2 separate regions of the Homo sapiens genome follow, and region 2 is linked to region 1. Evidence: fine-mapped QTL for protein levels in blood plasma. A gene starts in region 1. The other region holds a variant in brackets. All regions are shown on one strand. Distances are between the middles of the regions. Region 1 holds the start of CAPN2 (calpain 2). Region 2 overlaps CAPN2 (calpain 2).

The links. A credible set is the group of variants that fine-mapping cannot tell apart. PIP is the posterior inclusion probability: the model's chance that the variant is causal. Protein levels are from the aptamer-based SomaScan assay of Sun 2018.
Region 2: its variant is the best candidate, but not a certain one, in a credible set for the plasma level of the CAPN2 protein (Sun 2018, PIP 0.54).

Annotation. Positions count from the first base shown.
Region 1 is chr1:223,710,809-223,713,726 of GRCh38, forward strand. It overlaps CAPN2 (calpain 2), which reads left to right and starts at 1,731. Exons shown (of 21, transcript NM_001748.5): 1 at 1,731-2,069. The coding sequence starts at 1,833. RefSeq lists enhancers at 1,328-1,377, 1,417-2,368 and silencers at 1,478-1,867, 2,078-2,197.
Region 2 is chr1:223,765,845-223,768,762 of GRCh38, forward strand. CAPN2 (calpain 2) reads left to right here. Exons shown (of 21, transcript NM_001748.5): 16 at 523-587. Among named protein-coding and RNA genes, the nearest start is that of CAPN2, 55 kb to the left of the region's middle. The variant G/T (reference allele first, on the strand shown) is at 1,323.

The sequences.
Region 1 (2,918 bases):
CACTACCCACCCACCACCCCCCGCCACTTTGAGTTGTCCCGCCTTTCTGAACCAAACCAATGTATTTCTTAAATGTACTTGACTGATGGCTCTTGCCTCCCTAACATGTATAAAACCAAGCTGCACCCCAACCACCTCGGGCACATGTCCTCAGGACTTCCTGTGTCACAGGTGTGCATCTTCAACCATGGCAAAAGAAACTTTCTAAATTAAATGAGACCTGTTTCAGATTTTCTGGGTTCACAAGAGCTATCTTGGACATTGGAAGATGTTCAGCGGCATCCCTGGCTTCTACTTAGTAAAGGCCAGTAGCACCTCATCTCCTAGCTGTGACCATAAAAACTATCTCCAGACATTCCCAAATGTCTCCTGGGGTGGGTAGGGGACAAAACTGCCCCCAGTTGAGAACCACTGCTGTAGACCATGCACAGTTTTCCAGTGAAACCCAAATTCTTCCCTACTACTGTAGAGAAGAAGAGGAGGTAATTTCTGCCCATCTGCATTTCTTGGCACGCACCCATGTCTCTGTGTGTGAGATGAGAATCACACCCTAGCTCCACAACAGAGTGGTCACAGTAGCCAACACAGGCAGTATTCTAAATGCTCTCTCCCTATAGTAACCCAACTAATCCTGCCAGTTAAATATGAGTTTCAGGTAAACAATGAATCATATTTTCTTTTAGAATAAGTATGTATGCCCATGCAATATTTGGGCCCTACATATACTTTAAAAGTATCTGTTGTTTATCTGAAATTCAAATTAAACATTTGGGAGGGTTGTTGTTTTATTGGCCAAATCATTTTATTTTATTTTATTTTTGATATGGAGTTTCGCTTTGTCACCCAGGCTGGAGCGCAGTGGCGCGATCTCGTCTCACTGCAACTTCTCCCTCCTGGGTTCAAGCGTTTCTCCTGTCTCAGCCTCCCGAGTAACTGAGATCACAGGTGCCTGCCACGACGTATTTTTAGTAGAGACGGAATTTCACCATGTTGACCAGGCTGGTCTCGAACTCCTGACCCCAGGTGATCCGCCTGCCTCCGGCCTCCCAAAGTGTTGGGATTACAGGTGTGAACTACCGCACCCAGCCTTATTGGCCAAATCTGACAACCCTATCTATAATCAAATAAACAGCTGAGCAGTAGTAATTGCAGCATTGTGATTGCAATAGGCCTCCGGTGGCTTAGAGTCCCTGTTCTGCCTGTGACTGTTGTGCCACATTGGGGACGTCATTTAGCGTCTCCGAGGCTCAGTTTTCTCATCTGTAAAATGGGGACAATATCAGCGCCTTCTTCAGAGTCGCTGGGAGGATTAAATGAGATGATGTATGCAGAGCCGTTAAGACGCTGTTTGGCACAAAGTTCAGGGCAGCTGGTTTAGTTTCCTCGACTTCACTACCTGACCCTCTGCTAACTCCCCGGGTGTTTTCCGGACGGCCACAACTATCCTAGCCTTCTTCCCTATGGGCTGCAAAGGTGGCCTCGGGTTCCGGTGGGAGCCCCAACTCTGGACCGCGATTCGCGAGCCTCCCCGGCGCCGGGCCGCGCCATCCCGGGAGCTGTCCGCAGATGGCAGCACCGGCCCCGGGTCGCGGCGTTCCCGGCGCTCGGCAGGCCGCAGGATGGCCTGGTCCCGGGCCGGGAGCCCAGCAGGCCGGGAGCGGCTGAGGCCACACCCCGCGGGCCGGGCCGCTTCCCTCCGGTGAATCATCGCTCGCAGCGGCGGCGCCCGCAGTGGCCGCAGCAGCGCGCCGGGCCCTGGCCGCGCCCCAGCCGAGCGCAGCGCGGAGTCGCCCCGACCTTTCTCTGCGCAGTACGGCCGCCGGGACCGCAGCATGGCGGGCATCGCGGCCAAGCTGGCGAAGGACCGGGAGGCGGCCGAGGGGCTGGGCTCCCACGACAGGGCCATCAAGTACCTCAACCAGGACTACGAGGCGCTGCGGAACGAGTGCCTGGAGGCCGGGACGCTCTTCCAGGACCCGTCCTTCCCGGCCATCCCCTCGGCCCTGGGCTTCAAGGAGTTGGGGCCCTACTCCAGCAAAACCCGGGGCATCGAGTGGAAGCGCCCCACGGTAGGAAGCGCGCGGCAGGACGCGGGCAGGGCGGGGTGCCGGGCAGGGCGGGGTGCAGGCCGGCCCGCGGCGCGCTGGGGCGGGGGGCAGCCCGGGTGCTGCAGTGGGGAAGCCGCAAGCCAGGACCTCGCAGTCCTGCGACACCTCCGCGCCGCCAGAGCCCGGGACTCTGTTCGAGCGTGGGGGGACTCCCGGGGCCTTCCCTCTCTTCCACCCACCACGCTTTCCTGGGCGGGTCGAGGCGAATCACTGCCCTCAGATCCCACTAGCAGGCCACTTTAGGACTTCACAAAAACTCAGGGTGATGCAGGAGGCCGGGGTGAAACTTTGATTGGACTCTAGCGGGGAGCTGGAAGGGAAGGGGAATCGGGTCTGCAGGGAAGGGACGGTGAGAGGCAGCATCTACCAGACAAAGTCCGTCTCCAACTGGGGTTCTGTCTGTTCATGGAGGGGGACAGGCCATAGCCTGGTCATTTTGTGACTAAGGATAGTCTCCTGCAGCCCTGGGGTTAGATTTATTTTTCCAAAGGGGAGCCAGCGATACCTCCTCATAACATTGACACTGGTAATTAACCCAGGACACGGAGGTGTCTCATGGTTTCCCTGGCGGGAATCACCCGGGAAACCTCCGGGAGCCCTCCAGACCCCCTTATCCCGTCCCCCAGGGTCTCTGACCTCCCGGCCCTGGGACAACTTGTGCTCCCCAATCTACTTGTCCATTCTGTTTCTTGGGGAACCCCTGAGGCTCCTCCTCCTTTGGGACACTTCCCCAGGCTTCCCCTACCACGCCTAGGAAAGCCTGCCCTGAAGTCCAACTTCTAGATTCCTGTTGTGAGAACAAGGCTTCCA
Region 2 (2,918 bases), 55 kb after region 1:
CATGCCACCTGCCAAACACCAAGTGGACAGGACTCACTTAGTGCAGCACAAATAGCTCGTGGATCGATCCCAGTTCCTCAGGTTTCTCAGTCAGCTGGGGACACAGTCCATAAATGTCTGCAGATGGACAGTTCAAGTAAACCTCTTTCTCTCACGGGTCATAGCCTAGAATTAACACACCTGCTCTCTGTTTTCTTTTTCCCTGCCCAACAACTACAGGTGACTTTATATCCTGTGGGCACCTAAGGCCCAACCATTGATCATTCTGTTATTTATTTGTTCAAAAAGCACTTTTTAAAGCCCTGTTTGCCCACGGCAAATATACAGAGACATCAGGACAATGTGGACATCATCTGCACTGTCCCAGTCTGGTAGTCACTAGCCACATGTGGCTATTTAATATAATGGAAGTGGCTTCTGTATGTGAAGGGCACAGATAAAGAATATCTCCATGATTGTGGAAAGTTCAGTTGGACATCACCGCTCAGAGATTTTTCCTGTCACACTGATTTTGTCTTTTAGGCCAAGATATCAAGTCAGATGGCTTCAGCATCGAGACATGCAAAATTATGGTTGACATGCTAGATGTATCCTTTAATGTGCTCCAGGGAATAGAGACTGGGGGAGTTTAAAATCTCACTCCAGAAAGATTCAAACACATGGCCTTCTCCCTTTTCAAAATAGCCAGTTGTTCCCAACTTGCTGAGTTGCTGTCGGACAGTCAGCAGCGCTGACCTCCCTTACTAGGGAAATGCGAGAACCCTCTGATGAGGGAAAGCAAATGCTACACCCCCCCTCCCACCTACCCTGAAAGGCTTAGAATGCAGGCCCATGGCGGGCGGTGGCTCATGCCTGTAATCCCAGCACTTTGGAAGGCCAAGGTGGGCCTCCTGACTCACGAGGTCAGGAGTTCGAGACCAGCCTGACCAACATGGTGAAACCTTGTCTCTACTAAAAATACAAAAATTAGCTGGGTGTGGTGGCGGGCACCTGTAATCCCAGCTACTCAGGAGGCTGAGGCAGGAGAATCACTTGAACCTGGGAGGCGGAGGTTGCAGTGAGCTGAGATCGCGCCACTGCACTCCAGCCTGGGTGACAGAGCGTGACTCATCGCCAAAAAAAAAAAAAGAAAAAGAATGTAGGCCCACCAGTCCATTCCTGGGGCTGGTGCGGGAAATTCCTGACAATATGCCCATCACTTCTTTGCACAAAGCAGCTCGAATTTGTTTCCTCAGTGATGTGTTTCCATTACTTCCTCTAGGAAAATATTCCCTAACCACAGTATTTCTGATGTGAATCTGTTTTGTCTGATCAAGATCGTC[G/T]TCTTCTTTATTTATTTATTTATTTATTTTTTATTATTATACTTTAAGTTTTAGGGTACATGTGCACAATGTGCAGGTTAGTTACATATGTATACATGTGCCATGCTGGTGCTTTGCACCCACTAACTCGTCATCTAGCATTAGGTATATCTCCCAATGCCATCCCTCCCCCCTCCCCCCACCCCACAACAGTCCCCAGAGTGTGATGTTCCCCTTCCTGTGTCCATGTGTTCTCATTGTTCAATTCCCACCTATGAGTGAGAATATGCGGTGTTTGGTTTTTTGTTCTTGCGATAGTTTACTGAGAATGATGATTTCCAATTTCATCCATGTCCCTACAAAGGACATGAACTCATCATTTTTTATGGCTGCATAGTATTCCATGGTGTATATGAGCCACATTTTCTTAATCCAGTCTATCGTTGTTGGACATTTGGGTTGGTTCCAAGTCTTTGCTATTGTGAATAATGCCGCAATAAACATACGTGTGCATGTGTCTTTATAGCAGCATGATTTATAGTCCTTTGGGTATATACCCAGTAATGGGATGGCTGGGTCAAATGATATTTCTAGTTCTAGATCCCTGAGGAATCGCCACACTGACTTCCACAATGGTTGAACTAGTTTACAGTCCCACCAACAGTGTAAAAGTGTTCCTATTTCTCCACATCCTCTCCAGCACCTGTTGTTTCCTGACTTTTTAATGATTGCCATTCTAACTGGTGTGAGATGGTATCTCATTATGGTTTTGATTTGCATTTCTCTGATGGCCAGTGATGGTGAGCATTTTTTCATGTGTTTTTTGGCTGCATAAATGTCTTCTTTTGAGAAGTGTCTGTTCATGTCCTTTGCCCACTTTTTGATGGGGTTGTTTGTTTTTTTCTTGTAAATTTGTTGGAGTTCATTGTAGATTCTGGATATTAGCCCTTTGTCAGATAAGCAGGTTGCGAAAATTTTCTCCCATTTTGTAGGTTGCCTGTTCACTCTGATGGTAGTTTCTTTTGCTGTGCAGAAGCTCTTTAGTTTAATTAGATCCCATTTGTCAATTTTGGCTTTTGTTGCCATTGCTTTTGGTGTTTTAGACATGAAGTCCTTGCCCATGCCTATGTCCTGAATGGTAATGCCTAGGTTTTCTTCTAGGGTTTTGATGGTTTTAGGTCTAACGTTTAAGTCTTTAATCCATCTTGAATTGATTTTTGTATAAGGTGTAAGGAAGGGATCCAGTTTCAGCTTTCTACATATGGCTAGCCAGTTTTCCCAGCACCATTTATTAAATAGGGAATCCTTTCCCCATTGCTTGTTTTTCTCAGGTTTATCAAAGATCAGATAGTTGTAGATACGGCGTTATTTCTGAGGGCTCTGTTCTGTTCCATTGATCTATATCTGTTTTGGTACCAGTACCATGCTGTTTTGGTTACTGTAGCCTTGTAGTATAGTTTGAAGTCAGGTAGTGTGATGCCTCCAGCTTTGTTCTTTTGGCTCAGGATTGACTTGGCGATGCGGGCTCTTTTTTGGTTCCATATGAACTTTAAAGTAGTTTTTTCCAATTCTGTGAAGAAAGTCATTGGTAGCTTGATGGGGATGGCATTGAATCTG